Linked DNA regions of Homo sapiens: region 2 is linked to region 1. Evidence: fine-mapped expression QTL. Tissue or cell type: blood mononuclear cells. Region 1 holds a variant in brackets; the other region holds the start of a gene. All regions are shown on one strand. Distances are from middle to middle.

Region 1 (5,400 bases):
AAAGGTTCTGGGACAAGGGACAGCATGGGAAAAAGCCGAGGCGTGTGTTGGGAGCAGTGGGGTTTTGGGTGGGTTGTCTCCTGGAGAGGGAGTGGGGAGAACTGGGAGATGGAGCCGGGGGCAGGCTTGATCCAGACTGGGAGGTGCAGGAATGCCGGGGTGTGAAGAGCGTGGTCTTTATTCTGGGGGCTGGGGAGCCACAGCACAATCTTGAGCAGGGCAGAGGTCCTTTGGGAGGGTAAGCTCACAAAAACTCAGGGAGGCAGCTTGGATGCATGCACGCTCCGGCCTTGACCTTGACTGTGGTCTGTTGTATCCACAGCACCTGCATACTGTTTTTTCCCGTTTAAATGAGCTCACTTCATAAGAAATAAAACTACAGTGAAAACAACACTGGACACTCTTAGGTCTCATTGTTTTTTGTTGAGAAGGGAGGTGGTAAGGCAAGAGCGTGATGCTGAGGTGCAGGGAGTGGGGCTCTGTGGTATGTGCTGGGCTGGAGGCGAGAGTACGTGGTGGGGTGGCCCTGTCCTGAGTGACACCCTGCCCCCTCAGTACTACACCTGCAGCTGTGTCCTGGGCTTCATCGCCTGCTCGGTCTTCCTGAGGATGAGCCTGGAGCCAAAGGTTGTGCTGCTGACAGTGGCCCTGGTGGCCTACCTGGTGCTCTTCAACCTCTCCCCATGCTGGCAGTGGGACTGCTGCGGCCAAGGCCTGGGCAACCTCACCAAGCCCAACGGCACCACCAGGTGGGGTCCCGCCCGTCCCCGTCCCCATCCCCATGGTGGCCTGTTCATCTGGTGCCTGCCTGCTCGCACCAAGGGGCTTCTGTGTTCATGGGGAGTGGGCACCTTGCAGGGCGGGGCTGGCAGATGGTGTCCAGCGCTCAGAGCCGAGGAATTCACTGGCAGGTTCTTTAGGAAGTCCCTAGTCTGACAGAGGCCACCGGGTCATCCTGTTTCCAGGCCAGTCTAGTGGTGGGGAGGGAAGGAGGCTGCAGCTCTAGCTCTGTGCCTCTCAAGGCCACATCCTGGGTCTCGAGTTCTGGAAGGAGCAGTTGCTTCCATCTCTTCCTGGACAGGTGGTGATACCTGAGGCTGGCAGGGCTGGGGTGTGTGGTTCTAGGGGTTCTGGGTCCCAAGTGGATTAAGGAGCGGACCTGGCCCCCCTAAACAAAAAAGCTGGAAGCCTGGGACCCAGAACAGAACCTGCTCCTGTGGGTCTGCCCCGCACCTGCAAAATCCTTATGCCACCCATCCACCCCACCCCGCCTGCCACTGACCCTGGCTCACCAGTTCTGGGCTCCCTTCAGGCCCTCATCACAGCTGATTCTGGTCATTCAGGGGTGAGATCAGAGGTCTTCCCCACAAGGGCTCCCCCATCTCCCTGCCCACCTCTCCCCTCCCCCCTTTATAATACCCCAAAGTTGTCTTGTTTTCTACCCACCCCATTAGAATCAATTTTCCCCTTTCCCCTGGGTGTGCGTGGCACCTGGAGAGCATGACTCAGTGGGTTGGAGTGGTGAGTGCTGGGAGTGACTTGGGCCTCCCTTCGCATTCAGTGGCACCCCTAGCTGTTCCTGGAAGGACCTGAAGACCATGACCAATTTCTACCTGGTCCTGTTCTACATCACCCTGCTTACACTCTCCAGACAGGTAAGGAGGCTGGCCCCCCCCCCCCCCCCAAGCTCTGCCCACTTTTCCTCACCTCCATCTGGAGATGGGGTGGGGTGGGGTGGGCTCAGGTGGAGTAGCAGAAAAGACTAGAGTCCTGCCAGGAAAGCACTGGTCCCCTGGCCAGAGGCTCCAAGGACGCCAGGGACAGACAGACCTGGCTAGGAGATGCACAGCAGCACGGCTCCCACTTGCCTGTGGACGGGGCGCTTATGTTGCTGCCGTTTGCAGATTGACTATTACTGCCGCTTGGACTGCCTATGGAAGAAGAAGTTCAAGAAGGAGCACGAGGAGTTTGAGACCATGGAGAACGTGAACCGCCTTCTTCTGGAGAACGTCCTGCCAGCCCACGTGGCTGCCCACTTTATCGGTGACAAGTTAAACGAGGTGTGCTGAGAAGGGGCTGGGGCGGGGGCAGGGAGGCGGACGGTCCAGGCGCAGTCCGTAGGGTGAAGGTGTGGAGCTGGAGTGCATGCTGAGCTTGGCTTCCTCAGGTCCTGGCCTCACCGGGATGCCCAGGCGACAATGTATGGCATCAGCTGTGAGAGCATGGGCCTGGGGTCAGGGACCTGGGCTCAAGTGTGGTCGTGAACAAGGCACCTTGCTTTCCCAGGCCTTGGTCTTCACCTCTGTAAAATGGGCTGACAGCCCTTCCCCACAGGCTTGTGGCGAGGATGAAATGTGTGTTCAGGGGTTTGTGATCTGGACATTCTGTGTTGATGAAAATGTCTGTACTTCTACTAGTTATGTGTAGCAAGTTTTCTAGATAGGAAACGGAGGCCCAGTGAGAATGAAGACCTCCCGTTACCCTCCACTACTGCAGAGGTTCTCACCCCATGTGTACATGGAAACACCCATGGTGCTTCTGTGAGCAAAAACCAACCTGAGCCTGACCCTCCCTGGCCACCCAATTCTTAATCACCCGGTAACAGCCACCAGATGAAACTCATGCAGCCCGCCCCCCTCCCCACTCCCCGAAAGCTGGGCTGGGCAGTTCAGCAGTGCCATCTGCTCCTGAGGCCTTGCCACTCTTCCTGTCCCCTCAAGAGGTGAAGTGGTGTAAGGTCCGGTTTCTTCCCATCCAGGACTGGTACCATCAGTCCTATGACTGCGTCTGTGTCATGTTTGCCTCCGTGCCGGACTTCAAAGTGTTCTACACAGAGTGCGATGTCAACAAAGAAGGGCTGGAGTGCCTACGCCTGCTCAATGAGATCATTGCCGACTTCGACGAGGTACAGCCTCTAGCCCAGCCTTGCGCAGCAGCCCCCACCCATGCTGGAGAGGGAAGGGCGGTGGCACCTGCCATCCTAAAACCCAATTTAAAAATGTGACACAGAGCTGGGCAAGGTGGTCTATAATCCCAGCACTTTGGGAGGTCAAGGTGGGTGGATCACTTGAGGCTAGGAGTTCGAGACCAGCCTGGCCAACATGGCGAAACCCTGTCTCTACTGAAAATACAAAAAATTACAAGCTGGGCTTGGGGCGCACACCTGTAATCCCAGCTACTTGGGAGGCTGAGGCAGGAGAATCGCTTGAACCTGGGAGGCGGTTGCAGTGAGCTGGGATCACGCCACTGCACTACAGCCTGGGCAACAGTACACAACTCTGTCTCAAACAACAACAACAACAACAA[A/C]AAAAAAACGACGTGGCCCGCCTGGGGGGAACATACATTACACAGAATATAAAGGTACACATTTCTTTTTCATTCTGTTTTATGCAGCAAATAATTCGTTGGCATCTTCTCTGTGATGGGCAGCTTGCTAAGATTAGACTCAGGCCCCTTAGCTTCATTTCCAACTAAGCCCACGCTATCAACCAAGCCAAACAGAGGAAATCAGTTTGGGTTGAATTCTTTGCTGGAGACAAAGAATCTACATTCCTGTGTAGATAATGCTGTGTTTGCTCTGTGCAGACACAGATGGAAGGGAAGAGGGAGACAGTGTGGGGACGGAGACAACAGGAAGAGCAGGAGCCGCCAAGGGCCATGTCCTCACCATGCTTAGTCATGCGCTCAGCTGGCAGGGCAGCCATGAGACGTGTGTGCGAGAGGCGGCGATGGGTGGAGGGAACCCCACACCCTTCCTGAGAAGCAGGGGCAGCCTGGCTGCGGCTATGGAGTGGCGGCTGCTTCACCGCTTCCTTCTTGCCTGCAGCTCCTACTGAAGCCCAAGTTCAGCGGCGTGGAGAAGATCAAGACCATCGGCAGCACGTACATGGCAGCTGCAGGGCTCAGCGTCGCCTCAGGGCACGAGAACCAGGTACTCAAGCCCAAGAGGTGAAATTCAGCTGACTGTCCTCACTTAAAGGTGACCTGTCACCTTACTTAAAGGGTGTGCCCTTATCTCGTCCTGGGGGAGGGGCACAGGTACTTGTAGGGCTCAGCCAGGATTTTAGTGGTGGGGATCCTCAACAAGAGTGGCGCGCCAGGGCCCACTAGGTCTGGGGGCTCTGGAGATGCAAGGATCTGACCCACAGCCTGTCCCGCAGGAGCTGGAGCGGCAGCATGCCCACATTGGTGTCATGGTGGAGTTCAGCATCGCCCTGATGAGTAAGCTGGACGGCATCAACAGGCACTCCTTCAACTCCTTCCGCCTCCGCGTCGGTGAGCCCGGGTGATGGAGCGGGGTGGGGAGCCCCTGCCTCTAGGCCAGTCCACCCAGTCTGTGTGGCACAGCTGCACCTCGCCATCTATTATGAAAGGTTTTAGAAATCCCTCTGATCTGACAAGCTCAGCAGTTGGACAATTATTCTGATGTTTTGCATATAGTTAGCATATAGTTACCATTGAGAGTTTTAATAATACGTAACTACAGAAAATGGAGAACCAAAATTATTGTCTGTAAACAGGTGACCTTAAAATATAGAGAAGGAAGCAAAGTTACTAAACCTAAATAGTTGCGGGCCTGCGCTCAAAGCCAGGCCTTTGTTAATACTTTTAACAAAGTATTCTTTGTTAAAAGAGAGATTAGCAGATACAAGTGTTAACATCAAACCCAGACTTCTGAGTCTGAAAAAGAGCTGGCCGGGGAATGCCCTCCTCATACCCCAAGCCCGACTGCAACGCAGTGACTCTGGGAAGCAACCCAGCCTTCACTCTAGTTGTTTTGTCCCCGCATCCTGTGCTGGGGTATGGATTCTCTGGCCTCCTCTAAGGGCAGAAGCTTGAGGCTTTGCCTGCACGCTTGGGTAACTGTAAACATCATCTTCAGGCATAAACCATGGGCCTGTGATTGCTGGAGTGATTGGGGCCCGAAAACCTCAGTATGACATCTGGGGAAACACTGTCAATGTGGCCAGCCGAATGGAAAGCACTGGAGAACTTGGGAAAATCCAGGTAAAGACCTATTGGGGAAGCAGTTGACTAAGGGGAAAAGATCTTCCCCAGAGGTGAGGGGACTTGGACTTAAGAGCTGCTGTCTCACCCAGCAGCCATGGTTCTAGCTATCACACTCTCCAGGGAAGGCAGACTGCATGCCTGGGCAGTCTCTATCTGTCCCTACCATGACAGGTGTTCTTCCCGCCTCTGAAGACAACAGGTCTCTCTTCCTTTTCAGGTTACCGAGGAGACCTGCACCATCCTCCAGGGCCTCGGGTACTCTTGTGAATGCCGTGGCCTGATCAACGTCAAAGGCAAAGGCGAGCTGAGGACTTACTTTGTCTGTACGGACACTGCCAAGTTTCAGGGGCTGGGGCTGAACTGAGGGCTCCTGCTGGATTCCGAAAAGGC
Region 2 (5,000 bases), 56 kb after region 1:
ATAAAAAAGGAAGTAAAGAACTCAAATGAGTTTCATAAATCTTAGAGTTTGGGAAGAATTATTAAGCAATAACCAAACAAATGAAAGCAATGATCTAACTAGTTAAGATCAGATCTATATTTGCATACTATACTTGTCTACAATCACTTTAATATTGATTTAACCAATAATTGTGATGTACCTATACCTTGAGCAAGGGAAACTGAATTCTCATCTTCCATAACATGATGTCAGTAGAAGATATAAACTGCTAAATCAGTAAATAGCAATATAAACCTTTATTTTGAAATAGAAATAAGTAGGCAAGGAAAAATACCTAAAAAGTGTCCAGAGTGGAGCAGCAGCCTGCTTTGTGTCAAAAAGCTGTGTAGTACTCTTGACTTTTAAAAATCATCTTCACGAATTACTTTACTACTATTAATTAAAAAAAACAACTGGTTACCTCTGAAGAGGGAGTCTATGTGAAGGATTGGGGTGAGGAAAACTTTTTCCATTTTGTGTACTTTTGCACCACATGAACTACTTTTAAAAAATCAAATGCATATATGGGTTTTATAATTTAAGGAAGAAAACAAAACATTACTCCTACCTAGCCAAAGGTAATAAAAACTGGGACAAAAGGGAAGGAATAGACTTAAGAAATCCCCAAAATAAGATCTCTAAGACTTGGTGACTTAGCAATGTGTTCAATCACATGGAAGAGAAAGCTCCTCTTGTATATATAAACATAAGAAAAATTACATAACTAACCTATGAAAATTTACCTTCACAATAATTGATGTAATAAGTCGTTCAGTGGCAGGTTAAATTTGGAAAGTTAATAACAGTAATAACAATGTTATTATTATTAGAGACAGAGTCTCGTATTATTGCCCAGGCTGGAGTGCAGTGGTATGATCATACCTCACTGTACCTCAAACTCCTGGGCTCAAGGGATCCTCCCACCTCAGCCTCCTGAATAGCTGGGACACAGGTGCACACCACCAGGCTCTGGAAATTTTTGTAGTTTATTTTGCAGAGGCAGGGCCTTGCTATGTTGCCCAGGCTGGTCTCGAACTTCCAGCCTCAAGCAATCCTCCCACCTCGGCATTCCAAAGTGTTGGGATTACAAGTGTGGGCTACTGGGCCCAGCCATTAATTATTATTTTGCCCAGCTTTCAAACCAAGATGGTAGCTACTCATTCTTTTCTGTTAAATGCAAATGGTTAAGAATATCAATCTCCATTACAGGTTTCTGACCAAATTTTCTCAACACACTACAACACTGTTTTAAAAGATTTAAAGTTGCTCATTACAGATTTGGCATTATAATATTTATTTCAGAACAAACTTTAAACCCCAGTAGATCCCACTCGCTTCTGAAATGACTATTTTTGACAATCCTTGAACACTGAGGCTTTCTTGAGCATGACTTTTTACCCTGCCTAGATGGAAAAACCATTCTTTGAAGCAGCTCCTCAAAATTTGGACTTAGCTGCTTCCTCACCTGATGTGCGAGTACAATTGCCTAAGAGTATAATCCAAAAACGACTTGCTGAAACTCATAGATGATTCATGTCTCTATTCTGTCCTGCTCCTCCTCAAACGAGCCAGATCTTAGAGGCGTTTGTTTTCCCCAGATACAAAGAAAATAAAATGAGGTTGGCACCTGGAAGAGGCAGTGCCGTCCGCAAAGCCAAAGCAATGTAACCACTTGTACCTTAACTCTTCTCCGTTTTCTCCCCTTTTCTTCCCCTGGAATCTGCTTCTCTCCTTTCTTTCTCTTTTTCCGCTTTCTGTCCTTGTGTTTGTCATGATCGTTTTTGTCTTCGAAGAGGCTGGAGTCGTGCCCCGAGCTGCCCGTGGAGAGTTCGGTGACTTCGTTCCCTCCTACTTTGAGGACCAGCTTCAAGGGCTTCTCTACATACTCTTAAAAAAAGAAAAGAAAAGAAAGGAAAGCGCGTCGATTAAAATCGGGGCTCTCCAGGGAGTGCTAAGGATGCAGAGCGCCAAGGCGCAGCAAGCCCGAGGCGGCTTTGGGCGCTCCGCGAAGCACCTGTTGAATGACGGACCCCGGCCCGGGGGTGCGGCGGCGCCGCCCGCCCCGAACGCTCCCAGGCCTCCCGGGCCCGCCTCACGTCTCCCCACCAGAGACCCACCGGACCAGGGGGACCCGGGTTCGAATGCCGCGGCCGCACGGGGGGCAGCGCGGCCTCCGGCAGGACGCGCCCCCTTCGCCGGCCTGGGCCTGCCGTGGGAAGGAAGGGCCCCGGGCCGCCCCGGAGCCACTGGGAAAGAGCGGAAGCCCGGCAGAGCCGCCGAGGGCCCGCCGCCCGCACCCCGGCCCCCTCCTCACCCTCGTAGAGGTGTTTGTCCGACTTGTGCTTCTTGTGCTTCTTGCCCATGTCCGACCGGGCCCCGGTGCCCGCCCCCCGCGCCAGGCCCAGGCCGTGCGGCGCCGCTTCCGGTCCGGGCCAGGCGAGCGGAGGGCGGGAGCGGGGCCCGCGAGACCCCGCGCCGCGAGGCAGGGGGGCGGCGCGCGCCGGGCGGCGCGATGCCCCTCTCGAGAAGACGGCGCGCGAGACCCGGCCGGAGCCCGAGAGCGGCGGCGGGGGGGGCGCGCGGCCGGCGCAGAGGCGGGAAAGAAGGCCCGCCGCGCGCACAGGGTGCCGGCGGCTGCGGGTGGCGGCCCCTGGCGACCGGAGGTGGTGCTGCAGCTCGCGGGCCGGGGGCGGGGCCGAGGGCGGGGCCGGGGCGGGATCCACCGCTCAGACTCTCGTCTTTCTTCCTTCCTCCCTTTCCCCTCAATTTGTCTGTCTTGTCTCTGTCTCTGTGTGTCTCTCCCTCCGTCTCCACTTCCCTCCCTTCTTTTTACTCCCTCCCTCTCTTTCTTTCTCTTTCCCTTCTTCCCTTCCTTCCTCCTTCCTTCCTTTCTTTCTTCCCTCCTTACTGCCTCCCTTCAAGCCTTCCTTCTCTCTTTTCTTCCTCCCTCATCACCCTTCCTTCTCCTCTTCCCGTCTCCTTCCCTCTTTTTTTCTTTTCTTTTTTTCCCCTTCCTCCTTCCCCCACTCTTCCTTTCTTTCCACTTTCCCTTGCTTCTGTTTCTTCCCTTTTACGATATTGACTGAACCCCATACTGGGTGCCAGACCCAGCAAACTCAGCACATTGGTGACTGAAGATTCTAATCTTAAAAAAAACTTATGTGCTGATAGGTGAAGGTTACCAGACGTTTTGACTGTCTTTACTTCTAGCTGTATGGTGCTTTGTCTGTTTTCAGATAAGCTCGTAATTATAGTCTCCTCTTAAGAAAGGATCTGTTATCAGTCATTTATACTTTAGTAACAATTTAGACCCATGAATCACCTCTCCCAGGAAGATTTGTAGCTTTACCTTGAACTTCAGTGGTGAAATTATAGGCTTATATTTTAGGACCCTATTGTTGGCAACTAATAGAAACCAATTTGAATTATTTCAAGTAAATAAAAAGGGATTTATTGGTTTACATGTCTAGAAAGGGCAAGAATAAAGCTTGCCAGAGGGAAGACAGGAACCAAGGATGTAATGCTGTTGACTGGCATGCCAGCTCGCTCTCTCTCTTGTCTCTCTGTATATCGGTCTCCATCTCCCCCCTTCTTTCCTATATGGCTGGAAACATGGCCACCATCTGCTTCTGAGGCCTCTTCTTTATAGTGTCCTGACCAACTGGGAAAAAGATCTCTTCCTGTCAGCTTCACCTGGAAAACAGTCCCAGGGAAGGACTCTGATTGGCTTGGCTTGTGTCACATGTTTTATGGGACAGGGGATGGGAGATTGATTCGGCCTGGATGCCAAATCTACCCCCTCACCCCCTTGGCCAAGAGAAGTGGAGTCTGTGATTGGCAGCTCCTGCCAGACTTCTATGGTTAGCCAGGGAAGATGAGGTTCTTCTAATGAAGAGAGTTGCTTTTTCATGAAAGCTAAAAGTGTGTGTCTATTATTTCCCTGTAACAAGCCTCTCTGGTGTCCGTGAGGCAGAGATCAGGGTGTGGGAAGAGGGGTTGTGTTGGGGAAGAGACCTTCTGCTGCTCTGAAATCAAGCCAGCTAGGCCCCCTAGGCCCCCTAAGCATAGGGCAAAGCTTGGTTTCAGCTTTTCATCCACTGTCTGTAACTTATTTTGCTTTAAGAACCACTATGCCAACTCCCACTGTGGGTCTGGCCTCTATTGTGGCATTGCCTTGCTCCAGGCTCAACCTGTGGGTTTACCTGTCTGCTCCTCATTACCCTGGGTACCTCCTTGGTACTTACAGTGCCTAGCACAGTGACTACTACTGTCCAAATGCCCCTCAGAGGAAAAAGGTCTGGTGAACTCATCCATACTATCAAGTTAGTAATTTCCCTACCCTCTCAAGAGTGATTCTACATAGGTCACAAAGTGGTCACATCAATGGAAAGTGAATAAGAGTACGTAGCAGAAAACACCTCCCAGAAAAATGTTCCTGGAAGTGGAAGCCCAAATTCATCTAGTTTTAAATTCTCAGCACTAATACCATGCCTGGCACATAGAAGGCACCAGAAAATGCTAGTTGAGCTGCACGGTCCTGGTTCGGGCAGACTCCCCTGAGAGATTTCTGCCTGCTGCCATTCATGACCTCCCAGTGAGTGTAGAATGGCCTGGAGACTGGCTTCAGAGCAATAGAATATGGCAAAGATGATGGACGTCACTCCTGTGTTGAGGATACATAAGACTTCAGTCTTACTTGCTGACCGTCTCTCTTGCCTTCTTGGCTTGCATGTTTTGATGAAGTAAGCTGCCATGCTGGAGAAGCCCATGTGACAAAGACCTGAGGCTGGGCCCCAGTTGACATCCGGCTACAACTGAGGCTATCAGTCCAACAGCCTTGAAGGATTGAATCCTGCCAGCAACTGTGTGAGCTTCAAAGTGGATCCTTCCTCAGTGGAACATTCAGATGAGACCTCAGCCCTGGCTGACATCCTGATCACAGCCCTGTGAGAGTCCCAGAAGCAGAGGCCCCAGTTAAG

Evidence for each region. PIP is the estimated chance that this variant, and not a neighbour inherited with it, causes the effect.
Region 2: it holds the start of BRD7, and the variant in region 1 is fine-mapped to the expression of BRD7 in blood mononuclear cells (TOPMed, PIP 0.91).

The regions. Positions count from the first base shown.
Region 1 is chr16:50,310,132-50,315,531 of GRCh38, forward strand. It overlaps ADCY7 (adenylate cyclase 7), which reads left to right. Exons shown (of 26, transcript NM_001114.5): 19 at 556-749; 20 at 1,562-1,655; 21 at 1,905-2,060; 22 at 2,759-2,905; 23 at 3,827-3,931; 24 at 4,161-4,275; 25 at 4,883-5,007; 26 at 5,228-5,400. The coding sequence ends at 5,374. Among named protein-coding and RNA genes, the nearest start is that of MIR6771, 20 kb to the left of the region's middle. RefSeq lists enhancers at 1, 3,301-4,500. The variant A/C (reference allele first, on the strand shown) is at 3,307.
Region 2 is chr16:50,366,391-50,371,390 of GRCh38, forward strand. It overlaps BRD7 (bromodomain containing 7), which reads right to left and starts at 2,598. Exons shown (of 17, transcript NM_013263.5): 1 at 2,336-2,598; 2 at 1,700-1,908. The coding sequence starts at 2,384. RefSeq lists silencers at 1,987-2,496, 2,527-2,776.